Regions from separate parts of the Homo sapiens genome. Here all the other regions are linked to region 2. Evidence: fine-mapped expression QTL. A gene starts in region 2. Each other region holds a variant in brackets. All regions are shown on one strand. Distances are from middle to middle.

Region 1 (8,102 bases), 26 kb before region 2:
ACCCCCAGCCAAGACATTCTCTCGCTCACCTTTTTAAGCGTCACAAAATCATTCTCAGCAGCTGTGCGCTTATTGATTTCATCCTCATACCTATTGGGACACAGATGTTACAGCAGTTAGATTAGTTCCCCTTCATTTTTTTTCTTTTCCTTTTATACTGGATTCACCCCAAATGCCCCATTCTCTGGGAATATTACACACTTTTTAAATATCTAAATTGAAACTAAGATTTCCAAACTAAAGATATATTTTTATAAACTAACTCTCAAACATACAAAAGACAAAAATGATCTCTAAAGTCTCACTGTCTTCCTCACAAATAATCAACAAAGATACATATGCCTCTCCCCATTACCACCACAAATGCAACTGGGAGATGAATGGCTTTCCAGGGAGTGATCAAATGGCTCAGTGCAATGTTTATCTCCACTCAGCGTTTCACTCTGCCACCTACTTCTTCTTATAATCCTCCACAAGATCCTGCATGTTATTCAGCTCTGAATTCTGTGATGTTCTTTCTGCAGTGAGCCCATCCAGATATCTCTTGAGGCTGTCGATATACCCCTGGAAGATGGGCTCCAGGTTGATGGGGCGGGTGCCAACATTCATTTGTTGTAGCAGCTCCCATTTGGTCTGTAACACCTGGTTCTGCTGCTCCAAGAACCGCACCTGCCATGACCAGAAGGAGAGCACATGAGTTCTAGATCATCCTTCACACCAAGCAAGCCACGCTGGCCAGGGGCAGCTCAGGTGCTGCTTCAGGACCTCGAGAAGTGTCTGAGGCTGGATGCCGAGTCATGACTGGCAGAGCTTCTGAGCTCCCTGCTTTCGCCCCTGGAAAGTCCCACAGACTCCTAATGCTACATCCGGCTCTCTCCACGCAGAGGAGACTCTTTGCTGCTTCACTGCTCACTGGTTTGTTTGCAGCTGCTCCCAATACTCTAGACCATTTCCCTCCCCGCATCCTGGTTGAATTTCCAGCCAAGATCCCATAAATTCTGGGGAAAACCGAAAGCAGCCATCTGCTGGCACTGCTCGCAAGGGTGCTGAGTATGAGAGTCCCAGAGGGCAGGGCTCCTCAGCCTGATTTTTAAGAGCCTTGTAAATCCCTGCCTATTTCAAGGCAGATAAACCAAGACAGGTTCGTCTGCCTTGAAATAGGAGAAAAGCCAGTAACACTCCGAAGTGACACCAATAAAGACTTTATGGATCACAAAACTGAGAACGCTTCTCTTGAAGGCAGGAATTTCCTGCATTCCCAAGCAGATATTTCAGGTTCAGCTTCCCAGAGTTTAGTAATCACTGCTAAGGAAGGAAACACTATCTCAGAAGACGATGGCTTCCAAAACCTGCTGCTCCAGTGGCCTGTCCCAAGGATCAGTTCAATACTTGCCTATATCCATTTTTTATGGTTTTCAGAATTTTCCATAAATATTATTTATATGGACTGTAACAATAAGGTCAAAGGGACAAATGCTTCCTAAGTGCAGGCTGTTATGGGAAATGTAACCCACAAAGCTGGCGTCTTTTCCATCTGGAAACCGCAAATGACCCAGGCTACTGCGGTACACCACTGGCTCCTAAGAAATACAAATCTGTGCCATTTTCTTTTTGGTTGGCTCTGGAAGTGAAGTGGCCTGAGCATCAGTGGGAGCCGTCTTCTCCAGAGTCACCTTGTCAATGAAGGAGGCAAATTTGTTGTTGAGAGTTTTGATCTGCTCACGCTCTTGGGCCTTCACATTCTGGATCTCTGGGTCAACTTTCACGTTGAGAGGCTGCAGGAGGCTCTGGTTGACAGAGACTTCGTGGATGCCACCAGGGTATCCTCCAGGCCCAAAGCCACCAGGACCCCCTAAACCTCCAACACCACCAGGGCCCCCAAAACCTCCAAAGCGGCCTCCACCAAAGCCGCCTCCACCGAAACCACCACCACTGAAGCCGCTGCCACCTCCAAAGCTGCTGCCGCCTCCAAAACCACCTCCTCTGCCACCAAATCCACCAGCGGCGCCAAAGCCACCACCTCCTCCAGCCACACTAATGGAGATGCTCTTGGTCCCTCCAAGGCCAACAAGACTCCGACTGCCAAAGCCGCCTCCACCGAAGCCCCCGCCACCACCACCATGGCGGCTCAAGCAGGAGAAGCTGGAAGTTGATCTCCGGCTTCCACCAGACACCACAGCTGAGCCGCTGCTGAAGCCCCGGAATCCTCCTCCACCTCCTCCTCTTCCTCGAGATTTGCAAGAGATCTGACAACTCATGATGCCTTTGTCCAGGGAGGAAAGTCACAGGCTCTTGAGAAGAGTCAAGGCTGGAGACTCAACTGTGCTGCTGGGAGGCTTTCAGGGTCCCCTTATATACCTGCCAACTAGGTGTTGTGTACATGGGTGTGGATCCACTTATACGTGGGTTTGGTCTGCCTGGGAGCTATTCCTGGTGCGTGATTATCAAGCTAATAGCCATTAAAAATCTACTAATCAGCTCCATCCCAGAACTTGCTTTGATTGCAAACTTCTGTTTATCTGGGCATCTGTCATGCAATTTGATTTTTGTAAAATCATCAAAAGAGGAGATCAGGGTTTGGGTTTCTCAATCTGGAAAAGGACCTTCTGCAGAATGCTGCTCCCTGTTCTGGACCTGCCCAAGGGAAGTCAGCTACCACCCATGCTTGTGCAGGCTCACCACCCCAGTTCAACAATGAAAGGGATGGTGGGTTTAGAGACTGCAAGAGCCCCTCAATGCCAGCCTTGTAGTTCTCTTGTAGTTTCCCTCTTTCCCAGAAAGAGCCCCAACTAGTGCAGGGGAGACTGCAAAGGTCTTAAATGACCTTAAATGCTAATTGGAAATCGACCTCCTCTTACAGAAAGTAATTGGCCTCGGATACTGCAAAAGAGGTGTCGATTTTCAAAATATCTTGGCTCTTTTCTTCCCATGCCACACCAAAAATACACAATAACTAGGCACCGAATAGAGATTTTTTATAACCATGATGGTTTGTATAACCATCAACTGTCCCTTGTCTACATGAACACCCAGAGGTTGAGAGGTATGAGAAAAGTTTCGCTGTTTCTGGACCTGTGTGATGCGGGACACCAAGTGAAAGTTTGCAAACCAAGATCCAAGTGTATATTGATTCAGTCAGTCAGTAATCACGTATTGCCTGGTGATCCTGGGAAGTGATTAGGAAGTCAGGCTCTTCAATGACATCCACAGATGCTTGAGGATAAGAAGACCATCCAGCCTGCACAGAGCACTCACACTTAAACTCAACCACTTCCTCTGTCCATGTGGCCAACTATGTGGGAGAGGTTCTTGGAGTAATAAAACTGAATTTAGTCAGAAATTCTGGGTTTGAGTCCCAGTTTTGCTATTTATTGGCTGTGAGGCCTTGAATGAAACCCTGAGGCTCTGTGGTCCCAGCTATAAAATGGGAAATTCGTATGAAGTGTTTTGAAAACCACCGTGCACAATAAAATGTCAGTATCATTATTGTTTGGGGTGAGACAAAGATAATTCCTTTTCCTTTCCCCCTTGCCATGTTACTGTCTTCTGGCTACTATGAACATGCACTCTCCACAGGCATCATAAATTACAGAACCAGGTGGTTCAGATCCTAGTACCAAGTTATCACAAAATAATGTAAAAAACATAAGTTTGAGGTCAAATCCCAATTTTCTTGTATCTTAGTTAAATGACCTCAGATAATCCATAATCCTCTTCAAGCCTCAGTTTCCTCATCTATAAAAAGTGAACAAGAATAATAAGAATATGGCTACTGTGAAAACAGAACAATACACACATGTGCTAAACACAGTTCCTAGTTCATAGCAGAAACTCAATAAATGCTATTCACCCTTCTGCATCTTCCCCGCCAAGTTTCCAATCCTGTCTTAACTACTATTCAAGGTATTTAATTTGCAGTAAAAGAATGCTGAAGGAAACAAAGCTACATGTCTCCTCAATTATTTTTTCCAATCTGGTTTGCATAATTATAATCATGCAAACAAATCATGAAGCTAACAGCTTTGGAGACAGTCTCAATCCAAAGCAAAATGTGTCATTATCTACAGATATCTGAGCAATGCCCTAGTCGTCCCTTACTCCACCATGACTGTGCTCACACTATGGCAGCTTCAGGGGGGTCTTAATGCCTCTATGAAGGAAATTGAGCCAGATTTGTGCTAGGCACCCAATCTGCATGTTTTACTGCATTTTAATTCTGCCCTCACACCCTGGT[C/A]TCCCTCCCCACTCTCTCCACTGAACATCTTCTCCTTCTAGACCCATTCACCAATTTTTGAAAGTCAAGTTGAAAGAGTCCTCCTACTCTTTTGAAATGTGGAGACTAGAATTAATGCAATTTGAATATTATGTAACATTTTATTTCTATATTTTTAAATTTTCAACTTTTACATAATCTCAATGTGCTTTCCTAGATAATATGCTTTGCATTCTTTAAGAGAGTGAAATGGAAGTTAAGAATCTTGGTCTGGTTGTGATTTTGCCTCTACGCAACTGGTATCCTCAATTTCTTCATCTATAAAATAGGAATATTTATCCTGAATCCCTACTGTCCCACAAGGACATCGAGCTATTGCTGCAAAGAGTGTTAAGCTTCACTGTCTCTGAGAAGAGAACAGGAATCCTATAGAACAAAATCCTTCTTCCTGTTCCCCACTTTTTCTTTCAACAAACTGCCAGCAAGTCCAAGATCCTAAATGCTTCTCCTCATAGTGTTTCAAAAGCTCGTCTATTGGCCAGTGGGGCAGAAAAAATGAGCCCCCAGTATTAAGCAGAGAAGGGGTTAACTGTCTAGCCAACAGGAAATAAATGCTCAACCTAGTGTGGATGCTAACACCAGAGTCTCCAGGTAAGAATTCATTTCCCTCTCTTCTGTTCTCCTTTAGCAGTGGCGTATCTACCTGCCTTACAGCCTCATCATCACAGTCCTCCCTGTGTGACAATGAACCATGTCCCAGGACTTCTGTAGGGTAGAGGCAAGGTCATATTTATCTTTAACCCAAACCTTTATCCCCTCAGCACAGAGAATCACTTGAAGAATAAGCCTGTATTCCAAAAAAATCATTTCTCTGGTTTTTGGTTTGGAATTGCAGGTGTTTCCAGATGTGTGCATGTGATGCTGGCAATGCTTGAAGTCTTCGCAGCCTTTCATGGACCTGTTGCCTAAAGGTCCCACTTGGAGTTGTCTCAGGTTTCTGTCTCAGCCCTGATCAGGGTTCTCTCCTCCAGCCAGTGAGTTTAGTCTCTCCTTCCCAAAGACTCAGTGCATCAGCTGGAGACGGCTGCTGAGCCCTCGGGGCATCTGGCTCCTACCACCTTGGAATGGAAACCAAGAGTTTGGGTTTAAGAAAACCGAACCAAAACAAACAAAAAAAAAACCCTCCTCTTCCAGCCCCTGCTGCTGGGCTCAGGCTGCTCAAGAGGACCAAAATCCTTAGAGAGTCCAATAACGTCATGAAAGAAGTTAGGAAGACAGAGAGGCGAGTCAGCAGGAGGCTGGAACAAGCTGAGCAGCAGGTCAGCTGGAAGCAGAAGCCTCCATGGGCAGCGGCTGCCTGGCCTCTGCATGGGCTGCTGGCTCCGGGTACCTTCCATCAGAGCGCCCAGGTGCTGCTCCAAGGAGCTCTGCAGCTCCCATGGCTCCCAGAAAAGAAGGGACAGGAGGCTGACAGACACCCAGCAGGAGAGACTTGCTCAACACCTCCCTCCAGGGCATTCCTTCATAAATGATCATTTTAAAACTGCCTACTCAGTCTCTCTTCCCAGCCCCTGACCCAGTTCTCCATTTTGGCCCAGGCTCCCCTCCTTTCTTACCTAACATCTCCTTTTCAGTTTTTTTTTTTTTTTCGATCGGCCCCTTTTCTTACAGCGAGACAGGTAGCTGTTTGATTTTCAGGTGCTCTGGCCAAACTGGTTATGACTGAGGAGCCAGGCTGGCAGGCAGCCACGTCCACCCTGAGCATGAAGCACCAAACATTCCCACTGTACAGAGCCCATTCTGGAACGAGGAGATTCCAGGACACACACGGCAGGCTTATCAGGAAAGCAGGATGTGTCCTCTGCTCAGAAACAATGCTGGCCCCAGAAGCAGAAGAGGAGAGAGGGCAGGGACACTGCCCAGTGCACAGCAGGGACCCTACACATGTTGGTTGAACAAGACAGCTGTCTAGCAAGAGGATATGAGCCATCAGCGCCTAGCACAGAGCGAGTCACCTCCTTTCCCATAGCCAAGGCCATGTCATGTATAGGTCTAATTTTCCAAATGGACCCCAGAATATCTGACCCAGAAAATGGCAAGTGACACAGTTCAGCTTTATTCTCAGTGGGATCAGTCTCCAGTTGAATTAGCTCTGCTGTATGCCATAGGCTACTGCAACTCCCGGGGGCCTGGGCCTTGTTTGCTAAACTGTGGTCTAGTTAATGATACTAGTGTGACATGTGGCTGTGTGTTCCCAACTACAGCAAGTCTTCATTCACACAGAGAAAGCCTCAAAGGGTCGTCTGTGAAAAGCTCTTGCCCTTCCCAGGTGCAGTCCTCACTCCAGCCGAACTGTTTCCCCGGACCACGTTCTCCTTCTGCTCTTGCACTGATATTCATATTTTGTCCATGATCTGTGTAGCCACACAAATGTGGAAGGACAAGACAGCTGTGAAATACTCCATCCCATCCTGGTCATGATTTCAGAAAAATGGAGTCGCTGTAATCATACCACTCACGCCACCCTCACAGTGCAGACTTCTCCAGGTTTCACCAGATTTAATGCTGCCCCCTTCTTACCCAACTTCTCCATCTAGAGGAGCCTTCCAACTAATGCTATATTGTGCTGCTGCCACTGACAGCTGGAATTCACTTTGGATGCCTCCACCTGGGCATTCGCCAGTTCTTCAGCAGCAGCCTGTGCCATGCACCACAGGAAGCTCTAAGAGACATCCCAGCCCTCACCTGCTCTCCCACACCAGCCCCACCTCTCTGTCCCATCACTGAGAGCTGCCGCCACCCCCTTGTGAGCTCTTTCAAGGCTTCCTGCATTTGTTCGGATAGAGATCATTGCAGAAGAAGGCAGGTGGGAAAACATCCCCCCACCAAAAAATCAGAGAGAGAGTAAGCATGAAAGTTAATTGAATTTTATAAGACCAAATTCAAGAGACTCCTGCTCCTCTTTCTAGCAACAAAGGTTTTAGACACACCGTCAGACTGTGGGTGCTGGGATGCCTCACGTTGGAAGCAAAGGCCAAAGGCTTGATTCTGAATGACCTGATTGCTCCAGGGATTTTTATGAAGCAAAGAAAAAAAGGAAAATAAAACTGCTCAAAATTCTCTGGACGGCTTTTTTTTTCCACCACAGGCTCTTCTTTAAAAGCCTTTCAATTCTAAAAAAGCAGGTGGAATCATTGCTAATTAAGCAATTAATGTTTAACAGAGCTAGTATAGTCATTCATGTGAGATTATTAAATTTACGACCTGAATTATATTTTTATGAGCCATAGGCACAATTCATAGTCCATTGGGTATTCAAAGAAGTATATTAGTCTCTATTTAGAAGTACATTTATAAGGGAAGCCATGTGATAAACTGGGAGGAATGTGTTTAGGAGTGAAGGTTGGGTTCCTCTGCCAGAAGCCAGCCCTGTCACCTTGGCATGTCACCTCCCTTGCTGGGTCCCCCTTTCCTCCCCTGTGGACTGAGGGATTTGAAAACCAACAGGAACAGGGTGACTCCTAGATAAGGAGGTAGAGGACATGCATTCCTGTGGCCAACTGCCTCCAGAACCTAAGGAACCTCAGCTTTTCTGAGCCTTGATTTTCTCATCTGTAAAGTGGAGGCGCCGGGCTACACCGATTCCTTCCATTTCAGACATCAGTTTGTGCTTTAAATGGACACAATAGCTAAAGCCCTGAGAGCAGATGCAAACTCTGGGAAAGCGTAGAGACAAAATGTGCAGACACAGACCCTGCTTTCGGTTATTTTCTCACCAAGAGATGAAGGAAGAAATGGCAGCAGTAAAGTAGACAAAGGGAAGCCAGAGAGGAGAGAGAAGGGCAAACAGGTACGCTGCAGCTGAATAGGAGGGTTTGCCATCAGGCAG
Region 2 (8,093 bases):
AATCTCCAGATCCAGGGCCAGCTTTGTGTTCATCAGCTCCTGGTAGTCGCGCAGCAGGCGGGCCAGGTCTTCCTTGGCCTGCTGCAGGGCATCCTCCAGGTCATTCAGCTTGTTCTTGGCATCCTTGAGGGCATTCTCGCCACGCTGCTCTGCATCACTGATGGACTGCTGCAAGTTGGAGATCTGAAAAAGAATATGACACCCTCTCATAATATGCATTCCCCACTAGGCCTCCTCATCCCAATTGGTCTCCCCACTCCAGTGAGGCCAATAATGAGTCCAACAGAACCACTTGGCCTTAAGTCATCTCACACCCACCTCCAGATAACACATCACCATGTTGACTTCCTTAAAAGACCTTAGGGATAACTCAACAGCCTCTCTTGGCCCTGAGTCAAGGCTCCTACAACCCTTACAGACTTGACATTCTTCTAAACACCTACTCTAAAACCTCCTGGCTGCCCTTCCTCTCACTCCCCAACTCTTAAGTCCACTTTGGGTCATAGGCTAGATCACTCACATTGACCATCCCATCTTTCTCTACTAGGCCATTCTCACAGATTTCCCTAAAGAGAACCCAGCATGATGGCTGCATTCTGGAAACTAGCATAGTCACAAAAGGAACCAGGGATAATAATGTAGCCTTGGGATGAATTGCAAGATTCAAAACTAGGAAAGCACTCGCCCTTTACCTGAGGGTTACCCCCATTCCATACAGCTGAGTGGTAGAAGGAGAAAGCACATACCTGCTTCTTGACATTGTCGATTTCAGATCTAAGTCTCTGGATCACACGATTCAGCTCAGAAATTTCTATCTTTGAATTTCTCACACTATCCCCATGTCTGCCAGCAGTGATCTGCAGCTCTTCATACTAAAGATGGTAGATAGCGTTTGTTAAATGTAGGCAGAACTCAGCATGGCACAGGCACACATACATGAGATAACACAGGATAGCAAGACAAGCCATTTCAGGGAAACTGGCTAGGCTTTCAGCCCACTCACCTTGCTCTGGTACAAGGACTCGGCCTCAGCTTTGCTCTTCTGGGCTATATCCTCGTACTGGGCCTTGACCTCAGCAATGATGCTGTCCAGGTCGAGACTGCGGTTGTTGTCCATAGAGAGGATGACATTAGTTTCACTGATTTGAGTCTGCATCTGAGACAACTCCTGCAAGACATAATAGGTTAGTGACTCTTACAGCACTAAAACAAAAAACAACTTAGACAGAGAAAGCAGTCAGAAAATAAAAGATAAATATCTATTCTTCTGAATCGTTGTGGGTTCAGGCTTAAAAACTCTCCATTTAGATAAACTTGGTTGAAACTGGAAGACTTACTGCTTGGTAGAGTGCTGTAAGGAAATCAATTTCCTGCTGCAAGTTGTCAAGTTTGGCCTGAAGGTCCACCTTGGTCATATAAGCACCATCCACATCCTAGAGGAACAAGGGACATCATGAAGGCACATTCTCTCCAGGGCAGGTCCCTCTCATTACCTGTGAGGGGATTCTCCAAGCAAAAAAAGGAGCTTTGGGTCTACTCCACTCCTTTTTGCCCCAGGTAAATCACAGTTCCCTAACTGTCCCACCCCCGGATAGCACCATCAAGGGAGTGTGCCTGGCTTGCTGAGAATCTGCCACTCCACTTACTATGTAAGGTGCTGGGAAATATGGAGAAGCCAAGTGCCTGGATCAGTCCAGGTCCATGATGATGTGAAAATATAGCCCCACTCCATATACTCCCCAGGTCTACTACCTGGCTCTCCATATCATGGCTGCTTTCTGCTTAGTAATTGGAGACCCTCTTCCCTTATTTATTTCAAATGTGAGTTCCGTCCTACAGAATTTGCTTACCTTCTTGATGGTCACAAATTCATTCTCTGCATTTGTCCGCTTGTTGATTTCATCCTCATACCTGCAGGAAAGCAGAAACAATTAGGAGATTCAGAGGTGGTAAGACCTGAAGTCCAGCATTCTAAACTAAAGGTGGCATTGCCTATCACTGCCTTTCTATTATGAACCTAGGACATATTGGCCACTACTTTCTACTGAGCAATAAAACCACTAGACTATTTCCATCTCCTGAGAAAATGAAGATTTCTGAAAATGTCAAACTGATGTGCCTCTAACCTAAGAAAAGACATAGCTACATGCTGCTTCATGATCTTAGCTTATTACTTTCTGGAACTCTTTTACAGCAAAAGTTAAGAACTGCCCAGACAGGGTCCCTTACTTGTTCCGGTAATCCTCCACCATGTCCTGCATGTTCTTCAGTTCCGAATCCAACCGAGATTGATCACTCTTCAGTTGGTCCACTCTCCTTCGGAGATTGTTGATGAATGACTCAAAGTAGGGCTCTAAATTATGGGTTCTAGTGGAGGTATCTACCTGCTGCAGCAGCTCCCATTTTGTTTGCAGTACCTGGTTCTGCTGCTCCAGGAACCTCACCTAAAAACACAAGACCCCTTTACTCCTGATGCATAAATGGAGTCTCATAGCCATGGAGAACTGTGCCTCATTTGGAAAAGAACCTCAATTCCTATCTTCTGACCATGACAGAGAAATAGGAAGAAGATGATCAAGTTAATATCATCTGCATAATAAAACCCAACTTGTTAATTCAGAGAGGGCTTGGAAGGGAGTAACTAAACAAATACCAATAGCAAAGCGCATACAGAATTATTGCAATTATGTTTTGAAATAGGTGCATGGTATTTAAGAGATTTGCCTTCCAAAATTTTGTTAGGTATATTACCATAAAAACTGGTTTGCATCCCCAGGACACACACACATTTCAAAAGTATATCAGGAAAATTCAAAATTGGATTTGAAATTTGTTGTGGATAACCTTGGATTGGCACTATTAATGATTAAGCAAAAAATTAAAAAAATGGTTTATCTGAGTTTTTTAGAGCTGATTTTTGGAGATATTAGTATAAAAAAACTCTAGCCTCATCCAGTACCAATGTAAAATTATTAGAAGGCAGAGCTCCCCTCTGACAGCAAAAGATGTTTGGCACTGACTGACCACATGTTTTCTGCTACAATAACACTCTATACTATGTTCACACTCAACTCCCTTTCTATGGTTAGGAAGACCTTTCCAGGGTTCTCACTTGCACCCTGGAAAGTTCAGTTAGCCCCATTTCTATTATCTTCATTCAACAGATATGAGTCCCAATTCCGCTCAAGAGCTGAATAAAAAGCACTTAAATGTTAATGTCACACTGACCCACCTTTAGGTCGACCACGAACCCTTTGTCAAAGAGAGAGTCATTAACACCATTCACAAGCATACATCTAACATATCTCCTAGGAGACCATTCCACAAAACATCCTTTTAATCATGTAAACATGGAAACTTGAGGTTCAAACCTACTGTGTTTTGACTGCACCAATCCCAAGTGGACCAGCGGCAGCCCTACCAGTGCAATGAGAGAGAAACTCACCTTGTCAATGAAGGAGGCAAATTGGTTGTTGAGTGACTTGATTTGCTCCCTTTCTCGAGACTTCACCTTTTGGATCTCAGGGTCAATCTCCACATTGAGGGGCTGAAGAAGGCTCTGGTTGATAGTGACTTCTTGTATGCCACCAGGAGGGCAGACAGGACCATAACCACCCCCATATCCACCACCCCCAAAGCCACCTCCACCAAAACCACCACCACCACTGCCAAAACCACCAAAGCCACCACCCCCAATGCCACCTCCACCAAAGCCACCACCACCAAAGCCACCACCACCAAAGCCACCACCACCATAACCACCACCAAAGCCACTACCACGTCCACCTCCTCTAGCCACACTTATGGAGATGCTTTTACTGCCACCAAGGTTAACAAGACTCCGACTTCCAAATCCACCACCAGCACCAAAGCTACCACCACCACCACCACAGCTTGAAAATCTCCCACCACCTCCTCCACTGCGGCGTGTGGAGCTGCTGGTGGTCCTGCGCTGGTAGTTGATGATCCCAGCAGAGCCAGAGCTGAAGCCCCCTCCACTTCGGTACCCAGACCTGGAACTAAACTGTCGACTCATGTTGACTTAGAGAAAAGTAGGAGCAAGGTAGAGTAAGGGAAGGAGCTAAACACTCCTCTACCCCAAGCATAGAGACTTCCCCTTATATACAGGGAAGAAATTGGGCTTGGTCTTCTAGAGTCAGCGGAGATGCAGTGCCTGTCAAGGGTTTGGCTTGCCTGCAGCCATACAAGATTTTTACGAGCCTCAACAATACGATAAACACTACACACCTAGCTCCCAGGATGGGCTCTCAAAATTGCTGTGCATGCAAGATTGGTTCATGTGGTAATTATTTTATCACACAAGATCTTCCTTCAAGCATTTGTGGCTTTGGGAAAACAGGACCCCACATCTGATACCTGGTGTTTCTTGGTAGGATTTCATAACCCCCATCAAAAAGGCATGAAAGTTTCTATTCTCACCTTGCCTTTGTGAGCTACCAAGCACACTCTCTTACCATGCACAGCAGGTGCAATTCCCCGTGCTTGGATCTCAGAAGGAGCTCTCTGGCCCATTTCTAAGATCTTCTTTCCAAACTCCAGAGCTCACTCAGTTACAACCTGACAAAGAGAAAGGGCTTTAATAACTAAAAAATTAAAAGGTCTTTCATAAATATAAGCTTTATAAATATACCACAGTGATTAATTAAAGGAAGAGAAGCTGTCATTGAACAAGATGGATGAGTGGGTGGTCTGGAAGAACCAGAAGGGAGAGACATTTTTTTTCTCTGTTTCTCAGTTATTCCTTTTCTTGTTTCTTTTCTTCAAAGATAGAGCAGGAGACAGACACCAGCAATAGAAAACAGGTAGCAATGGATAGCATGCAAACGCCCTTGAGTGAAAAAGCCCACAGAGCAGTGAGACGAGTAAATAGAAGCTCTAGGACATTTTGTAAAGCACAGGGGTGGAGGTGAGGCTTGATAGGTGATTCAAGCCTCACACTGGACTGCAAAGAGAGAGAGATAAATGCAGATTTGGAAGGGAAGACAATGAGAGGTGTCTGGAGAGCCTTATATGAGAAGTTTAAATTGTTTCTGGAGGTGATAATAATGATAATACCTAACATGTATCAAAAACTGACCATGTACCAGGCACTGTTCTACGTAGCACATATGTATTAACTTGCTTAATTTTCACAACTTTGAGATAGATGCTATTTTTCTCCCCATTTGTAAAATGAGGAAGCAGAGACACAGGGGTTGAATAACGTGATCAAGTCTACACAGTTGGTAAGTGGGGTGCCTGCGATTTGAAGCAAGAATACCTAGCTATCATGTGCAAGATCCTAAACAGCATGTTGTACGACAGCACAGCAGCCGAATTCAAGTCATTCTGCCTGCTGTGTGTAAAGCCAGACAGCACAGGAAGCGCCCCACCACAGAGAGCTCTGAGGGCAGAAGGCCTGTTTTATCACTCTGAGTCCTTGGCTCCTGGCACATGCAAGTCTTGGAAAATGTTTCTTCAATTCACACTGAGAAGGAGATTTTGGTGGCACAGAGTTTAGTGAGGAGATTTTACTTCCATCCAAGTGCAAGAGTACCCAGCATGCATTGCAATGGACCAGGAAACCTCAGGGGTCTTCCTGGAGAGCAGCACTTGATCAATATCAGTGGATAATAGTGGCACTGAGATCTGGACACACTAGAAGCCCAAGCAGACTTTCATTCGAAGACTTCTTAGAAGCCTGGCATGGTCCCCGGGCCTGCACATAAACACAGAATTGAAGACTCAAAGGGGAGAAGCCAGCTCTAACTTCAGCTGGCTCCAAGTAACTCTGTAAGTGGCAAACCATAGATGTACATGGGAAGTCTCCACTATGGTGTGCAAGATCTATGGGAGAAAGGGAGTCTGTGAAGATCATCTGGTCCCATTACTCTGTGGCTCTGAATCGGGCTGGCTGTGTCGGTCCTCTCCATTGCACTCCGCTATTGAACCTTGTCCCTCTTCTCCTCCCAGTTTTTGCCCTATACCCTCCTCCAGAAAGTGCCCCTCACCGCTCCCCTGCTACTCCTCTCCCTCGCCATCACTGTGGCACTGCTGTCTGGGACTCTGTCCTAGCACTAAAATCCTTCGGCTGCTAAACCAACCATCTCTTTAGGGAATGAGTAATTCAGGTCTTGTTAGGAACAATGGAGACTGGGACAGTCTTGGCATGGTAATGACTGTTGCCTAATCATTTTCTGACAAGCAATCAAAATTATTTTAGTTCAGCATACTCCCTCATGAGACATATTGTTCTGCACAATCGATTCCTTCTAGCATTTTGGAGGGGTGTGAGTATGTGTGTGCACACATGTTTGTGTGCACACATGTTTGTGTGCATGTGTGTGCCAGCCAAAAACAGACCTTGGCAGTGATCCACACTCCCATCTTTGAACTAAGAAACTGACATACAGAAAAATCAAAGGTTTGAATGAATGGTCAGGGAATTGGTAGACAACTTAGCTGCAAAACATACCCCAGGTGCTCCTGTGAGAAGGGAGAAATGCAGGACTAGCAGGAATAAGTGCCATAAACCTCACCATAGCTTACATTTGCACAGCTCACCCCACCAAACACATATGCAAAGAGCATCCCACAAGAGCCCTGAGAACTAGGCAATCAAGCTGTTCTCAACCCATTTCATGAAACAGAAAACTGATTCTCAGAGATTAAGTGGCTTCCTCTAGACACTCCGGCTAGGAAAAGACACATCTGGAAGCAGAATCTGGGTTTTCTGATTTCAATTCAAGTGACATTCCTCCCTGAACCGGGAAGAGGCTCAAAGACAGGCAAGTGGAACTGGGCCCTATAAACAAGTACACAGAGAATTACAGAATGTTCTCATCCATGGGGCCTCAAAGGTCACATCATCTAACCTGCCTCACAGAGAAGTGAGAGCACAGGCCCAAAAAAGTAAAAAAAAAAAAAAAAAAAAAAAAAAGTGTCCAAGTCATAAGTCAATTCCTGAGACTCTTCCAATTGTTGAATCAAACTCCTTTTCTTTTTCCACTGCCCACTTTCGAGGCAGCCCAACAGAGCTGGAGCTGCAGTGCTGCCAGACCAGGCCCGTCATCTCCTGTGATGTCCCCAGGATCAGTGTGGGTGTGTGGGATATGAAGAACCACATGCAGGAAAGGTGTGAGCCACACACTCTCTCCTGGCTTACTTATGTACTGTGCATTTATGAAATAAAGACAAAATGAGAAAGAAAGAGACACTAACATCTACAGGCAGCAACTATGCTGTTAGGAGCCACATTGCATTTAAATACCACACAAAGTCTGCGTCGTGGGAGCTCTTAGCCCCATTTTAAAGAAAAGGCATCTTAGGTTTATAGAGGTTGAAATATGTGCCCAAAGTCATCCAGCAGGTAACTGACAAGCCACGCTTGCCTCACTCCAGAGTCCAAGCCCGCCGCATCACATGGGCTCCTTCTGTCATTGGCCTGCTCTCACCACCAGCACCACCTACATCTTACCCTGCTCACCCACTCCCCCGGCCTCACGCCTTGACCCCTTCACTCTCGTGCTTTGCCCAGACTGATCAACCCTCTTCTTCCCTTTCCATCCCTGTTCCTCTCTGTCTTCCAAGCCCACTTCTACTCTTCTCTTTTCTGAAAGGTCTTCTGGTTGCCTCGGCAACTTGCCACAAATCCCTACCCATAGTCAAGCTCTGGGGCACCAAAGATCTCAATTCCTGAGCATTTGGTCCTGAATCTGTTTTTGGTCCATCAGGGCTTGTGGGCAAATGCCTTCATCTCTCGCTCAAGCAGGCAGCAGACAGGTCCAGATCTCATCTCCTCCAGGGAGTTTTCCTCAGTCCACATCGGGCAAGTGCTCTATTGGTCTCTTTTTCCAAGCTCGGCTGCTGCCAGACTTAGTACATATTGATGCATTTGTTGGCTCATTTTCATGCATGTGCTTGTGTGTTTCCTGGCCCCTCAATCACTCTGGAAGCCTTTGGAAAGCAAGACTAAGTCCCCTGTGTCTTTTGATGTCCTCCCAGCATCCCACATGGCCCCTTATACTTGAGAGTTACCCCAGCGGTGCTGGATGACAGAGCACCAAAACACCCCCACCCAAGGACTCACACAC
Region 3 (8,102 bases), 110 kb before region 2:
TTCTCCACAACAACACCTCATTTAATCCGCAGAACCACCCTCAGTAGTCAAGAAGCACTACAGAGATGAACTGAGAGCCTATTACGGGCCGGACTTCGTGTGAGGTGAAGACCCCATCAGATAGATACAGTCCCTGCCCTCCTGGAAATGCTAGGAAAATCCATGTCCACCAACCCTTTCTCCAAATGACAACGTCCCAGGGGAGAAACAGGAAGGGAAAAGGGTGGGCATGACCTCAGTCACCATTTCACAGGATGAAAAGGGAGAACATTTCCTTTGAAGCCCAGAAACCTTCCCAAGACAGTAACAGAAGCTTCTTGGGAGGTGAGACAGTAAATGGAGGTGACATCACTTTGTCCCAGGGTCCCTGGCTTTCCCAACCCAAGGCATCTCTCAAGAATACTCACAGATGCTCACAGAGGATGGATTCTCACCAGACATCCTGTGAGACAGAAAGTTAGAGAAAGATAAAAACTCAGTGTCGAGATTCCACTAAACATCAATGGGCTCCTGCTTTTATACGTGCATCATTTAAACTCATCCTTATAACAACTTACGAAACTGACACTATCGCCTTCATCTTACAGATGAGAAAACAAGAGTCCTGGAGATACTAGATGATTTACCGAGACCACACCACTAGCATAGGATAAAGCCAATAATTAGCCCCTGCTGAAGAGCCAGTCATTAGCCCCAGGTCTGTCTGAGCCCCCGGTTCTCATCACAGCAGCACACGGCCATCTACGCTTCATGGCTCATGTCCAACAACCCCTTGCAGGAAGCTGCCTCTGAGTTCACGAAATCACCACATCTCTTGCTTGTATTGGCACTAACCATGTTGTTCTCCAGGTGGCCCCTCAGCCAGACAGGAGCCACACCCCAGTCCCTTCTCACACTTTCCCCTCCACCCCACCTACCTGCACTCCTCGCCCTCCAGCAGCTTGCGGTAGGTGGCAATCTCCATGTCCAGGGCCAGTTTCAGGCTCATGAGCTCCTGGTACTCGCGCAGCATCCGCGCCAGCTCCTCCTTGGCCTGGTGCAGGGCGCCCTCCAGCTCATCCAGCTTGGCCTGGGCATCCTTCAGGGCATTGTCTCCCCGCTGCTCAGCGTCAGCGATGGCCGTCTCCAGGCTGGCACGCTGAAGGGCAAAGAACAGAGAGACCATCAGAACAGAAAATTACATTTAGCTCATACCAGTTAAGTAGAACAATGCCCTCATTTTGCAGATGGGGCCCTAGGTGACAAGGAGTAAAAGCTGCAAAGCCAACACCAGAACTTTGTCTCTTCTATTTTCTATTGCAGAGGAGTATTCAAAGCTGTTATCACATGAAGCTGTGGAAGCAGTTGCATTTCAGGAGGTCAGGAAGAAATGTCGATGTTTGCAAAGTTAGATAGTGCCTGAGACCGGAGGCCACCAGTATCTACAGATTCAAAATACTACAGGTTCAGGAAAATCATGCCCGATCCCCTAGCAAGGCCAGCCCTGAGGATGAGACAGTATGCCACGGTCCCACTGTGATCAGATTCCTGCTGCAGGACCTCTCCCCATTGGGGATCCTTCTGATCTGTTAGCATCCAGATGAGTGTTTCTGGACTCCAGCACTCTGGGGAGAGTCTGTGTGAAGGCTCCCACATCTGGCCTTCCCTTAGAGCAGGAGGATAAGGCCCTAAATTATAGGCACAACCTCAGAAGCTGGACTCTGATGAACATCTGGGGGGCATTGCGATGCCTGTTGCTAACAGAGAGGGAGGAACTATGCTCATGGAATTTGTGAATCGGCCAAATGTAGAGTCGTAGAGTTGTCCCTGTGTTTGCCTGCAGAGCATGGAGGGTTGTGGGGGCACCAGAAGGAGAACAGGCTCAGATCTTTCCGCTGGTCAATTCTATCACTAGCAGAGCAGACCTGGTTCTCAGAGAGGTCACAGGAAGGATCCTCCAGCCTCCAATATCATCTCCCCACTGACGCAGTGTTTAAAATTTGCTGCTGTCAGGTAAGACAGGCCCCCCACCCCCACCCCCCCGCCCACTAACATGGAAGTAGTACCATGGCACAGGGCAAGGGAACCCAGGAGGGCTTCATCGACAGCTGTGTCCCTCAGTCAACAGACCATGCCCCACTCCGAGAGCAGGAACCTGGTGTGGCCAACAGAGGCGCCTGATGCATACCCTCTGCACCCCACACATGTTCCATGTCCAGTGGGAGGAGGAGACAGAGGGTCTGCCCTCAGAGGGGGCACCCAAAGGGGACATGGGGCAGGTTCATTGGACACAGAAAAAATCTGCAGAAGGGGAACCTGGGTTCTAATCCTAGCTCCATTCATTACCAGCTGGGGGCTCTGGGAAAGTCCCTTCCCCTTCCCAGCCCAGTTGCTTTATCTGCAAAATGAGGAGTCAGAGAAATAGGTTTGAGGCTCCTCCCAGTTCTGGGCGGGGTACCAGCTCTGATGGTAGGGTACCGAGGCAGGGTGGGAAAGGGAGACTGTGGGTGGCCGAGGGACCCCTAAGCCCAGCAGGGGATATTTGCTTGTTCCCAAAGGGCAGGCCCCATTTCCTCATCCCAGAGCCTGCTGTGGAGACCGGGAGTTCTTTGTGGGGCTGCTGCCCACCTGCTTCTTCACATTCCCGATCTCACACCGGATCCTCTGGATGAGCCGGTTCAGCTCCACCATCTCGCTCCTGGTGTGTTTCAGGTCGTCACCATGCCGACTGGCTGCCAGCTGCAGCTCCTGGATCTGGTTTCCCAGAGATAGGAAGTTGGTGATGAGACAAGGGCACTGGGGAAGGGTCCTGTAAATAAGCCACCCCTGCCACCCTGGCTGTCGGTGGGATTTAACGGAACTGAAGAGGAGTGCTGGGACAGGGTCCTGGGGGCCCAGGTAAGGGGTTTTCTCCCTGACAGCCCCAAACATAGTTCCATTACTCAGTTTACCCAAAGCATAGTTCCATTACTCAGAGCACTCCTCGCCTTCCATTTCCTTTTGAAAGTCTTCCCGTGGGGATCAGGAAAGAGCTACAGGCTTCTCCTTCTCTCACTCGCCCCCCACCAAATTCACCCATGGCTACACTCCCGCAAGTCTGTGATTCTCCCTCTGCCCTGTGGCAACATGCCCCCATTCCTATAAGTGTGTTTGTTTTACCACCTCACTTCTTTCACCTGCAACAGAGAGGAACAGGCAGTTCGTGGATGGAGGAAAGAAGTGAGGGATCCTCTCTGTTGCATATATTCAATCCATACCAGTTTCATGATTTATCTTTGATAACAAGCTCTGCTAAGAATTCCTTTTTTCCTTGAAGCCTTGGTTGGAACCTTTCTTTCATTCAGCATGCCCACAAAAGTATTCCTCACATTCACTGTGCAGGTGACCCCTCCCAGGAAGCGAAGGGCTGCTGTGGGAGGAGACCCATTCGGTGACCACCTTGGTCTGGTACAGGGCCTCGGCCTCGGCCTTGCTCTTCAGGGCGATCTCCTCATAATGCATGCGGACCTCAGCGATGATGCTGTCAAGGTCCAGGTCCCGGTTGTTGTCCATGGACAGGATGACAGAGGTCTCACTGGCGTGAGTCTGGATCTGAGCGATCTCCTGCATTGAGAGAGGAAGACAGATTCAGCAAC[C/A]CCCTGGCTTCCCTCTTCTGCCCCATCAGTCTTCTGGGCCCATGGTCCCTGGCCCAATAGGCTGCTAGGATCCACGGGGACAAAGTAGGGGGAAGAAGTGCCCTCTGGGATGTGTCTGCAGAGCTGAGGGAGAGCAGCTAACAGCAGCAGGAACCCCTGCATATGGCAGATGCCCGCTGGCACATGCAGACGGGTGAATAATGCATTTTCCACAATTTCACAGAATCCAAGGCTCTGTGCTTTGTAAGACCTCACTGGGTTATCTTTTCCTGCCCGTGGGCAAGTCCACTATTGTATCAAGATCAATTTCCTCCTGTATGTATGGCCTCCAAGGACCAGCATCCTGCACTTCCATGGTCTCCTGGTGCAGGGTTTTGTACCTTTCTACCAAAACATCTTTCATTTTGTTGATCCTAAATCTCTCCTTTTGGTATCTCCCTGGAAGAGTCGGGAAGGAGGCAGGGTGAGGGTGGGGGGACAGGAGTGTCCTTACTGCATCATACAGACACTTGAGGAACTTGATTTCTTTGTCCAGTGAGTCCACTTTGGCCTGAAGCTCCACCTTGACTGCGTAGGCTGCATCTGCATCCTGCCAAGAGGCCCCAGAGTCATTGGGGGATGCAACCCTCATCCCACAGCTGCCCTGCCCAACTCCTGCCTCAAAGCCACCTGATTTTCTATTTTCTACCCACAAAGGAAAGCTCACTCAATATCAATTTCTTCTCAGGCTGCCTGAAGCTTTGGGAATAGGGAAAGGAGGATGGGGCAGCTCTGTTATGCCTGGAGAAAACAAAGCCCAGAGAGGTAGTAGGTTTCCTCAGGTCACACAGCAAGGTTGAGCTGGACCCGAGTTTCACAGTTCCCAGACCAGAATTCTGTCTGTCTCTGTCCATTTCCTGAGTGTGTGTCTTTCCTCTCCAACTCACTGGAGGCCAGGACTATGACTCCACCCTCACCAGGCACCAGCCCCCTCACCAGGCACCAGCCCCCTCCCCAGCCTCCTGGGCTGAAGTCCTGAGCAGAGTTGTTAAGATGGGGGTGCGAGAGACCCTAATAAGGAGGCTCCTCCCTCTCTTACCTTCTTAAGCACCACAAACTCATTCTCTGCTGTCGTGCGCCGGTTAATCTCCACTTCATATCTGCCAGCAGGGAGAGTAGATGGCCTTAGCCCCCTTAGCCAAGGAACTTTCTCTTCCTGCTGGCCAGGCAAATGTTTGGGATACAGGGTCCCTGCAGGGTCTCTGGGGTGAGCAGTAAGAGGCTAGTGACAGGAGTAAGATATCCCTGAGTTGCTTCACTTGTCTCCTAGTTTTTGCATGTTAGGAAAACACCCAGGTGCCTATTGGGCTCCCGACACCAGCAACTGAACATTTCAGTGGGTCAAGGAGCACAGGAACCGCTTCCTATCAACTAGGCAGGAAGTTATCATCAAAGAGGATAGGCCCTTCCCCCTAGCCAGAGAAAGGGATGTGAGCTCCTGACCCTGGTGCATACTCCCCCATCTCCTAAAAAATAATGGCACAGAGATCAGGTGAGCCCAGAGGCACGGGAAACATGGTCTGTGACCCTCGGGTGGAGCCTGCTCACCTCTTCTTATAGTCCTCCACCAGATCCCTCATGCTTCTCAGCTCCGAGTCCAGCCTCACCCTGTCCCCAGACAGTGTCTCCAGCTGCTTCCGCAGGTTGCTGATGTAGCCCTCAAGGATGGGCTCCAGGTTCTTCTTGCAGTTGTTCAGGTCCAGCTGCTGCAGCAGCTCCCACTTGGTTTCTAGAACCTGGTTCTGCTGCTCTAGGAAGCGTACCTGGAACCCAAATCAACAGACACCTGGAACCACAATGGGTGCAGTCATGCCCCCTGGACACACACCATTGACTCCCCAGGTTTGCCATAGATTGTTGTAGTCATTTTTGCTCATGTCTTGACTCTCCACCCTTGCCATTCCACACAAACTAGATCCTTTACAAGTGCTCATTTCCTAGCCTTCTGGACAAGGCATCACTGAGAACTCACTCAAGGAGTTTCCACAGCTTTCTTCTATTGCTCGGCCCTGGTCCCAGGAGATGTCCTTCCTTATGTCTCAACTAAGTGTCTCTTCCTGTACCATGAGCCCTTCCCTCTGAACACTGCTGGATTCTATTAGCCTTTCATGTTCTTGGAAGATCCAGCTGTCCTCAAGAAACTCATCACTTTTTTGTCAAGGAAGGGCTGCTCTTTACCCAGCTTCCCATCCTTCCCTGCAAAATCGCCAAAGAAGCCGATATATTCATGTATTCCTTTGTCCTCCGTGGCTCACAGACCTACTCTCCTTCCCTAATGGTGAGGAAGCCCTTCCTGAGGCCCAGCTGCACCTTTCCAGCCACAGTGTGCAGTCCATTCCCAGGCAGCAGGAAAACTGCTCAGGCCTCAGGGTGCGGCCTCATCCTCCTCCTATGAGACCCACCTTGTCAATGAAGGAGGCGAACTTGTCGTTCAGCACCTTGATCTGTTCCCGCTCCTGGGCGCGCACCTTCTGGATCTCAGGGTCCAGCTCCACGTTGAGGGGGGCCAAGAGGCTCTTGTTGACAGTGACCTGGTGGATGCCCCCAGGTGGGCACACAGACAAACATGCAGGCCCCAGGGCCACACTGCCAAACATACTGCCAGCAAAGCCACTGGCCCGGCCCCCTCCATACCCAGAGCCAGGCCTGAAGCCGTAACCTCCAGCCCGAACGCCGCCACCAGCCACATTGAAAGAAATACGCCGATTCCCTCCAAGGCTATAGAGGCTCCGACTGCCAAAGCCAGCGCCAGCCCCTCTGCCAGCTGCACAGTAAGAAGCCAGGCTACCCACAGCCTTCCTTGGCACCACTGCCGAATGCACACTGAAGTTGCCCTTGTCACCACTGGACTTGATGTTCAGTTGCCGACTCATGGTGGGAAAGGTTGAGTTGACAGAGCTGGAGAAAAGCAGTCTCCAAGGGGTAGAGAACACACTGATGGGGCACCCAGAGTGCTGCCTCCTTTTATCCCTGTTGAGCCCAGGACACCGGAAAAGGGCGTCTCTCCACTATCTCCTTTCCCCTGCTGATGGGCCAGGGGCCATGGGCAATTTGTAGAACAGAGATCTCCAAGCCCTTTGCAGCAACAAAGCTCTTCTGATAGCAAGTGGAATATGCTGCCCTTGCAGAGTGGAGTGGTCTAATTTGGAGTTTATCTGTGCTCCCTAATTAAGGACCTGAAGAGTTATCCCCTGAAGAGATCTCCTAGCTTTATTTTTCCAGTGCTACCTCCTTCTTGCTTAACCATCAGCAAGGAGCAGGGGAAATGCCTGGCTTTCCCCAGAGTAGACTCACCTGAAAAACCCCAGGTTTCTTCCCAAAAGAAACCATCTCTCTATTATAGGGTCTTGTGTGGAAGCTGGAATTTTTACCTCAGGGAAAAGAAGACATGGAAAGATGATTCTTCTTGGAAAGATGTCCTCAAAGATCTGGATCTGGGTAAGAAGCTCCAGGGTCCGTCCTTGGGCCATGCTAAGGACCACAGCTGTCTAGCAGTGAAGTGGACCCCAGGAAGGAAGAGGAATGACTCTGCAGCATCTGCATGCCCCCCTAGCAGGGATATTGTCTAGGGCCTTCTGTGTTGGGCAGGGCCTGGGTGGTGGTGACCTTGACATTGCCTTACAACCATGAGAACCTTTCCAGTCAGCTGCATTTCCTCCAGTTGGATTTTCTCTCCTGGATAAGATTATTTGTCCTACTCTAGGAAGTCAGGCAGGAGCTGGGATATTAGCCCCTGCACTCCCTGGGGAAACACCCTATGGCTGAAGTCACCAAGGAACAGGACCCCCTGAGTTTCACTCCCAGGTTCAGGGTGGGCTGTTCTGCCAGTTTCCTGGCAACTTCAGGGAGCACTCAATTTTCAAACAGGAAGTATCACTGCTTTATAGCTCAGGTAGTGTGGGTACAGTGCAATGTTAAAAAATTATTTCAGGGCTGGGCATGGTGGCTCACACCTGTAATCCCAGCACTTTGGGAGGCCAAGGAGGGCAGATTGCCTGAGGTCAGGAGTTTGAGTCCAGCCTGGCTAACATGGTGAAACCCCGCCTCTACTAAAAATACAAAAATCAGCCGAGCGCAGTGGTGCATGCCTGTAGTCGCAGCTACTCAAAAGACTGAAGTAGAAGAATCACTTGAACCTGGGAGGCAGAGGTTGCAGTGAGCCTAGATTGTGCCACTGCACTCCAGCCTGGGCAACAGAGCAAGACTCTGTCTCCAAAAAACAAAAAAAATTATTTCAAAGCTAGGTATCTGGCAGCTGCCCTCATGCAAGACTCTGACCACTTCCTATAACTAAACTGAGAACACTTGGCTTGTTTGGATCCAGCCGAGGGCAGAAGACAACTGCTCCCACTGCTGGGGAGGGAAAAGGAGAAGCTGACCTGGGCAGGGAGCGTGGAGCTTAGGCCTGGAAGCTGCCCCGGAAGAATTTCCCCTTCACAGGGTGTTTTC
Region 4 (8,102 bases), 200 kb after region 2:
GGGCAGAAGGGTGTGTGTGTGAACAAGTGAAGTCATTCTCTCTGGGTGGCTCCTTTTAATTAGCACCCTGAAAAAACTCCCAGCCAGCAAAATTGAGTCTTGCCAACTGGGAGCCCCATCATTCTGACTCATCCAGGCCCTGGGGGCGAGAGTAGGGGCACGAAATCTGAGAGTCAGGAAGGGGGTTGTTGAAAGCCTGGGCATTTGAGAAGGCTTCTCAGTCTTCTGGAGGACCCTCAGGAAGGACGTGGTCACATCTGAGAGTCAGTTGGCCCCTGGGAAGCTTGGACTGAGTTGGTTCAGAGCAAGAGAATGGAGGTTGGCAAGGCATCAGAGAAATCACCGCTTTCCCCAGCTCCCCCGAGGAGACCAGCCCCTGAGCTTGGCCAGGGTCAGCCCTGGAGGTCATACTACAGGACATTACATCAGGTCCAGGCCTGGGTGAAGCATTTGGGCCATTTCAGTTGTACTCAACATTCTAAGCAAAGAGTCACCTGATATCTTATGGCCAACCCCCAGAATCTAGTCCCCGGAACTGGAAGCAGCAAGTTTACTCTATGAAGGGGACAGAGCAAGCCTCAGGCACCTTCCCTCAAGACCCCTCGCCCCACAGTCCAGAGGACTGTCCATGCCCCTCCTCTCCCTCAAAACTTTTCTGCAGGCAACTGCCTGATAAACCTCCCAGAATCTGTGCCAGCCTCCTGGCCTGGTGTGTTCAGTTGCTCCACTGTTGCCTGGATCTGACACTCTCTTCCCCTATCAGGCTGGGAGTCCCAGAGGCCAGGGCCCAAGCATCTCCTTGCTCTGGTCTTCAACAAAAGCCCTTAGGACCATATAGTCCACGGGAGGGGCACAAACCTGCTCCCTGTGAAAATGGGCAGTGGGGGAGGTGGTGGGAGCCCTGAGACTCAGGGCTTCTCTGGATGGGGAGACAGGAGCCCCAGGTTCAATCCCACTGCTGCTGCTACAGAATCACTGTGTGACCTCAGATGTGAAATTTTCTACCTCGAATGTAGACCCAGTAGCCTTGGGGGTCCCTTGCAGTCTCTGATACTAGGATTAGCTAGTAACCGAGGGTTCATTGTCGGGGGAAACACCAGGGCAATGGGAAAACACTACTTGGAAGACCAGGCTGGTATGGCCGTGATTGAACAGGAAAGGATTCTTACTGCCAGGGTCAGGAGCAGGGATGCCTTCTAGCTCTCCCTGGCTCTAGAGCACCATTTCCAAATGCCCCCAGCTCCAGGAAGGAGTTCAGGCAAGAGCTGGGGAGCTGCACAAGGCAAAGTAGAGCAGAGCTGCCTAAAACTGTCCAGGGCCCAGAGGGCCATTCCCAGGGGCTGGCGGTCCCCCTCGGGCTACTTCCCAGGCCAAGCAGCCAAATCCCCAAAACCGGAATCCACCAACCCAGAGGACCACCGCCCCTGCTGACCGCCAAACCGTCCCTGGAGAACCAGACCATTGTGCCCTCCCACCAACCACAACCACCCTGGGGGCCCCCACCCTGGAGCTCATGCTGTTGGGAGAGGGTAGGGCCTGATTTCAGGTGACAGTGGAGAAAGGATGGGGTGACTGCTCTTGGGGACAGAGAGTGGCGTGTTGGAAGAATGAAGGCGTCCTGTCCCTGGGGCTGAGTGGGAACCTGAGCAGGGCAGGCACCGCCCGACGCGGAGGCCTCCACCCCCAACCCAGCTGGGCTGCCTGCTCCCATCACACCCTGGGCAGTAAAACTTGCTTTTATGGTTGTTGCGGGGGTTGTTTTCCTTGGTGGTGGGGGCAGGGGGTTCTGTTTGTGTCTTTGTATCTTTGTGCAAATACACCTGTGTTGATATGTGCCTGCTCCTATACATGTATTGATGTCTGAGGTTTTGTGTGTGTGTAAATCTGCATGTGTCCATGCCTCTGTGTGTGGATATATCTGTGGGGGAGATCATCATAGCTACCATTTATTATTTCAATGTACTCTCCAGGTGTTGTTTCCTTTAATCCTCGGACAATCCTTTAAGGAAGATATTCTAGCTATCCCCATTTTACAGATAGGGCCATAAGGTTGGAGAGATCCGATAATTGACCCAAAGTCAGATCACCAGTAAGAGGCAGAACCAGGAGACTTCCCTCTACTGCTGAATGTGTCTCTCTGTGTGCCCGAAAATAAAGAGCTATATATGAGAATCGTGTAACATCTGTCTGTGTGTGTGTCTGCACCGTCTAAACCTGTGCATGTGTGTGGGGTGTGTGTGTGTGTTTTGTGGCCCAGGTGCAAGTCAGGTGCACCTGCCAGCAGCTGGCATCACCAAGGTCTTAGGGACAGTGGCCCTCTGAGCATATTTTCTGACTGTATTGTCCCTAGAACAATTTCTGAAGCAGATGACAGCGTGTGGTGTTGCTGACTGTGGACAGAGAACTTCTGCCGTCAAGACCGTAGCAGGAAATGCCCCTGTGCCCCTGAGCCTGGCAAACAAGGCAGCCTGTCTCCTTCAAGGAGGAGCTGAGTGCCCCGCAGAGACATTCCGGGAAGAGCTCAGAGGGGGGTAAGAAGGAAGAAGAGCGAGGCTGCCTCCCACCCCCCGCAGAGCCACCCGTGCCCCTAATCCACAGGTGGGAGTGGCGGGGAGTGGCCCCTCGAAGAGGAGCTGAGACGTCTCCGCTCGGTTCCCCTGAGAGCCCTGTGCTCCGTCACCGACAGCCTCTCTCCAGAAGTAGAGACCATGGAGTCTGGCTGGGTGCCGCGTCAGGGGTCTCTCGGGGCGGCTAGAGGCCCTGGGAACCTGGAAGCCCGCGGGGCGCGGCGGGGCGGGGCAGAGCGCTAGAGCCGGGTGGCGGCCGCCGATTGGCTGGGCCCGAGCGCTCCCACGGCGGCCGGGGGCCCCAGGGCGGCGCCGGCCGCGCCCGCTCCGCGGTGACTCATCCAGCACCCCACCTCTGGAGCTGGACGGGCGCCCGGCCTCTTCCCACCCCAGACCCGCCCGCTAAGCCGGGAGAGCCTGACTCAGCAGGGGGAGCCTGGCCTGCCTTCCGCCCCCTTCGCGTCCTCCCCCGGGGCAGAGGAGAGTGTTGTGGGGAGAATGCGTTTCTGTCCCTGTGGGAGAATTTGTCCCGCTCTAGGGAGGAGAATCTGGTATCTGTTCTTCTGGGAGACTGTGTGTCTGTCCATGGGCGGTGGGGCCTTCTGTCCCCACAACGGGAGGTTGTGTGCCTGTCTTTCTGGGGGTGTCTCTGTGTCTTAAGATCTTTATGAGTGTGGCCGATGGACTGTGGTCTTTTGGAATCTGCCTGTTGGTCTCTTTGGAGCATCACTGACCTCCACCACTCCAGATCATCTCTGTGCCCCCCTACACCCCACTTCCCCAGAAGTGGGGAAGAGCTTAGCAGCTCTGTGCCTCTGTCTCACAGCGGCCAGGACAGGCCCCTCAGGGGTTAGCTCTGAGTAATTCTCCAGCTCTGGCTCTGCCCCCTCCACAGTGCCAGGGCCCCTGAAGGTCTGGGGCCAGATGCTACCCTGCAGGCCAGGCTCAATCCCTACAGCAGTGCCTGAAATATCTCAAAGTGATTTTAAAGCAAGATCTCAAAAGTGATCTTAAACCAAGTGATCCCTCAAAAAGGGAAAAGGACCCACAATTGTCCAGAGACTACTGTGGGCCATGTGTGCCATGCTAGGAGCTTCGTGTTCACCTTATCGATGCTTCTCACAGCAACTCCAAAAACAAACATAATCCCCATTTTACCGGGGAGAAACTGAGGCCTACGTGGTGGCTCAAGGTCACACTGGCACAGTAT[A/G]TGAGCAAATCTGGATTTGAACCCAGGACTCTCTGGCTCTAAAGTGTATGCTCTTTCCACGGCTGTGGCTGTTCCCTGAGCGCCTTAGCCAGGAGTGGCCTCCACCTGGCCCCACAGCAAACCTGGGGGAAACTCCACCACCTCCACAGGGAGACCAGCCTTCAACTTCATCCAGGCTTTCCCATACCAAGAGAGGATCCCCCAGGACTGTGAGAGGGACTGGGGTGGGAAGGAGAAAGAAGCCAAGAGTCAGTACATGTGGGGTTTGGAGTAGGCAACAGGATATGCCAGATCCCGGGGCTGGGGAAGAGGACCCTGCAGCTCGACCCACGCACACTTTGTAGGACACACACACACACTCACATACACATGCACAATGGCTGCTGGACACAGTGCACAGATCCAGCTGTGGGGGTCATTGCAAAGATGCCCAGACACACACACGTGCATGTTTCATGTGGTGCACACCTGATATATAGAGCTGTTACCAACAGACATGAAGGAATCAGTGGAGTCATTACACACAGATTCACAATGGTGTGCAGGTCATTACTCACACACACACACACACACACACACACACACACACACACACAGTCAGAACCACCAAAAAGAGGATGATGAGGGAGTGAGAAGAACGTTTGAAGCTGTTGTAGGAACAAACCAGCTCAGGGGCCTGACCAAACCCACTCAAGCCCCGACCCAGAAAACCTAGACCTCTTCCTCTGCTCCCCACAGGCACTCACAATGGACAGCCCACCAGTGCCCCTCTGCCCTCTGGGCCTAAGACCCGGACTACTGATGTACACACAGAGGAACAGGCATGCACACACACATGCCTTTGAGAAAACACCTATGTGAACACAAACTCACAACAGATGTGTTCCCCAAACATAATATGCAAAAGCCACATAGGCCTTTCCAACAAGCATGTACACACAACAGTCACTCGGGCGCACAACCATCCCACAAACATATATCCATGCAAGACTCTCACACAAGCACATCCAGTGCCAGTCACACAAACACACAACCACCCATGCACTCACACAGACCCATGGATCCATGTACACAACGTAGGAAGGAGGAATACAAATGCACACACAAATCAAATGCACACGCAAATCAAATGCACACATGAGTTAAATGCACTCACGATGGGGATATGTGTGCACAGACCATGAGCATGACACACCTTCCTCCCACAGCACGCACCACTGCCCCTCAACCTTCCATCTTGGCACAAACAAGGCCTGGGCTTGCTCCATCAGCTCCATCTCCTCCATGCCTGAGACAGGCCCTGCCCAACCTGCCCCAGCCTGCTTGAGTGGGGCCCCGCCTGCTCCCAGCACCAGCTGCCAACCCAGCTCAGCACAGGGCAAGCTGCCCACTGCTCGGGCACGTCGCTGCCCCACCCCCTCCTCCTTAGGCCTGCCATCTCAGCATCTGGGCCTCAGCCTAGGCCGCACCTAGCCCATTTCTGCAGGTGAGTGGGTAGGCAGGGTGCTTGATCCCCACAGCTGGAGGTGAGGAAAGGGACCAGGCAGTTAAGACCCCACGAGGAAGGGGCAGCCTGGCTCAGAGCCTCTCACCTCCAACCCTGTGCCTTCTTTTTCATTTTTATTTTATTTATTATTTACCTATTCTGAGACAGGGTCTCACTCTGTTGACCAGGCTGAAGTGCAGTTGTGCGATAGCTGCCTGCAGCCCTGAACTCCTGAGCTGCAGCAATCCTCCTGCCTTAGCCTCTCAAGTAAGCTAGGACTATAGGCACATGCCATCATGCCCGACTAATTTTTTAATTTTTAATTTTTCACAGAGACAGGGTCTCACTGTGTTGCCCAGGCTGATCTCAAACTCCTGGCCTCAAGCAATTCTCCCATCTCTCAAAGTATTGGGATCATAGGCATGAGCCATCGCACCCAGCCCTTCTCCTTTTTAGGTGGACCCCTCCTCACCAACATTGGGTCCCCACAGGTAACTTCCTGGTTGCAGTCAGCAAACACATCTAGAACTACAGTTCCACTGTAAACAAGGTATTCTGTCCACACTGCCCCTAACCAACAAACACATCTACACACACACACAGACACACACACACACACACACAGGCTTTCAAGCACACACACCACCACTGGAACAGATACCTAACCAGCACTCCCTGTCACAGGCCCACAGCACACAGCCCTGCACGTGCAACTCAATCATATATACTCCCAGCACACCACACGGTGTCCCAAACCCCCATCTCACACATAGTTTCATGCATAGTCCCCATAAAATATGCACAGCTGGACACAGCGTCTCTATGCATGTCTCAACACACAGACTTGCACAGTGTCAGGAGGCTCTTGTCATTGTCCCAAACACAGTCATGCCAGCTCTGCACTGGGATAGCTGGCTCTGGGGGACAGGTCTTTGCACACTGCCCACCCATTGGCTTTGCAGTTCCAGGACATCGGAGTAGCCTTCGTTTTATCCCTGCTGCCCCTACCCAAGAGCCATGATAAGCCTGGCTGGGGCAAGGAGCTGCAAAATGTCACTGCCAAAGCCATGCCCTCTCACAGACCAGCCCCTCAGGCATGGGGAAGAAAGCAGAAATAAGCCAATGGCTGGTAAGAGCTCAAAACCGTAGAAGCCCTATGGCACCTGAGGTGGACCTGGGAAGAGGACACATAAACCCTTGAGCCTGCTGGCCCAGGAGGGAGCTGTGCAAGGGCCGGGCAGACCCAGGAGGGAGCTGTTCAAGGGCCCGGCAGACCCAGGTGCTGGAGTAGTAGGGGCAATGACGGTGGCAGGAAAGTCATCAGAGATAGGGCCTGAGGTTAAAAAGCAGTAACACCCCTAGAGCAACTCAGGGCAGGCCAGGCCCTTGGAGGGCGCCAGACTCTCCTCCCTGTGCCCTTCCCCCTCCGCCTTTCAGCTTAGGAGTCAGGCAGCAGGTGTTCAAAATGCTCCCACTAGCCTGGGCGACGTGGTCAGAACTTGTCTGTACAAAAAATAAATAAAAATTAGCCAGGCAGGGTGGCACACATCTGTGGTCCCAGCTACTCAGGAGGCTGAAGTGGGAGGATCACTTGAGCTTGGGAAGTTGAAGCTGCAGCTGCAGTGAGCCTTGGTCACACCACTGCACTCCAGCCTGGACAACAGAACGAGACCCTGTCTGGAAAAAAAAAAAAATGCAGCTCTCACTGGGACTTCTGGGGGCTGACTCTGCTCTGCTTCCTGACATGAGTGCTGGTAGCATGATCTGTTCAGTTTGTGAAACTTCATCACACTGTAGACTTATGACTTGAGTACTTCTCTCTATGTATGTTACACTTCCATGAAAATTGTTTTTGTTTTAAATAAATCTCCCCGTGTGTATGAAGCTCCACATCTTTCTGGGTTGGTGTGCACATGTCTGTCTGTGCCTGTCTGTACCTGTCTGCGCCTATGCACATACAATCTCCCATAGGAATTATTCCTTGTCTCTGGTGCCTGAGGCCCTCCATATGTGCACCTGACAGTACACACACGCGCACACGCATGCACACACCCACAGCCCCCTGCCTGCGTGTCTTCCCTCCATGATGGCAAGGCTGCCGCTGCAGAGGGTGGGGAGGGAATGTAGTAAGGCCTTTCTTTCATTTAACAGCAGATATTTACAACCATCTGCTCTGTGCCAGGCACGGGGATACAGAAGCATTCCAGTCAGACTGGGCCCTGGCCAAGCTCACCGTCTGCTGGGGAGGCTGTGGTGTGGTGAGAAGGGCCCTGTGGGGTAGCACAGGGTAGGGGGAGCCCAGCCTCGGAGGGGCAGGGACGGCTTCCAGAGGAGGAAATCCTAACTAAATTGGGAAGATGAAAGGCTCACAAGTGGATGGGTCAGCCATAGGAGGTGCATTGCAGACAGGGGGACAGCAGGCACAGGGGCTAAGGGTGTGAGGGGGTGCGACTTCCTCAGGGAACCCCCAGGGGATTCAGCTGCCTGAGTGGAAGGCCACGGCAGAGGTGACTTCAGCGGGGTCAGGCGGGCCTGGAGTGCCAAGCTCAGGGGCTTGTGTGTCTCCAAGGAAGGGTTTGGGCCAGGCTGGGACATGATTGGGATCAACTGGAAGGAGTGCTGTGGAGGAAGGCGCACTGAACTGAGAGTGAGGACACGGAAGTTCTCACCCTGGCTCTGCCCGATGCTGCCCAACTCCCCTCTCTGAGCCTCCAAAACGACAGCGTGCTGCACCTCGGAGCCGCTGGCTCACAGGCGGCTGCTTTCTCCTGGGGCCTGTCTGCTGCCGGCTTGCCTGTCCTCCTGGGTCCTGCCCACGCGCTTCTGCCCCCAGGCCCGT

Evidence for each region. PIP is the estimated chance that this variant, and not a neighbour inherited with it, causes the effect.
Region 1: its variant is fine-mapped to the expression of KRT1 in whole blood (INTERVAL, PIP 0.93).
Region 3: its variant is fine-mapped to the expression of KRT1 in whole blood (INTERVAL, PIP 0.95).
Region 4: its variant is fine-mapped to the expression of KRT1 in whole blood (INTERVAL, PIP 0.99).

The regions. Positions count from the first base shown.
Region 1 is chr12:52,649,885-52,657,986 of GRCh38, forward strand. KRT2 (keratin 2) reads right to left here and starts at 2,327. Exons shown (of 9, transcript NM_000423.3): 1 at 1,674-2,327; 2 at 455-669; 3 at 30-90. The coding sequence starts at 2,258. The variant C/A (reference allele first, on the strand shown) is at 4,235.
Region 2 is chr12:52,676,313-52,684,405 of GRCh38, forward strand. It overlaps KRT1 (keratin 1), which reads right to left and starts at 4,095. Exons shown (of 9, transcript NM_006121.4): 1 at 3,446-4,095; 2 at 2,230-2,444; 3 at 1,851-1,911; 4 at 1,338-1,433; 5 at 1,004-1,168; 6 at 747-872; 7 at 1-183. The coding sequence starts at 4,036.
Region 3 is chr12:52,567,252-52,575,353 of GRCh38, forward strand. KRT74 (keratin 74) reads right to left here and starts at 6,592. Exons shown (of 9, transcript NM_175053.4): 1 at 6,056-6,592; 2 at 5,202-5,416; 3 at 4,693-4,753; 4 at 4,108-4,203; 5 at 3,418-3,582; 6 at 2,608-2,733; 7 at 918-1,138; 8 at 408-442. The coding sequence starts at 6,526. RefSeq lists an enhancer at 5,017-5,186. The variant C/A (reference allele first, on the strand shown) is at 3,615.
Region 4 is chr12:52,871,468-52,879,569 of GRCh38, forward strand. No RefSeq gene overlaps it. Among named protein-coding and RNA genes, the nearest start is that of MIR9898, 23 kb to the right of the region's middle. RefSeq lists a silencer at 2,757-2,986. The variant A/G (reference allele first, on the strand shown) is at 3,778.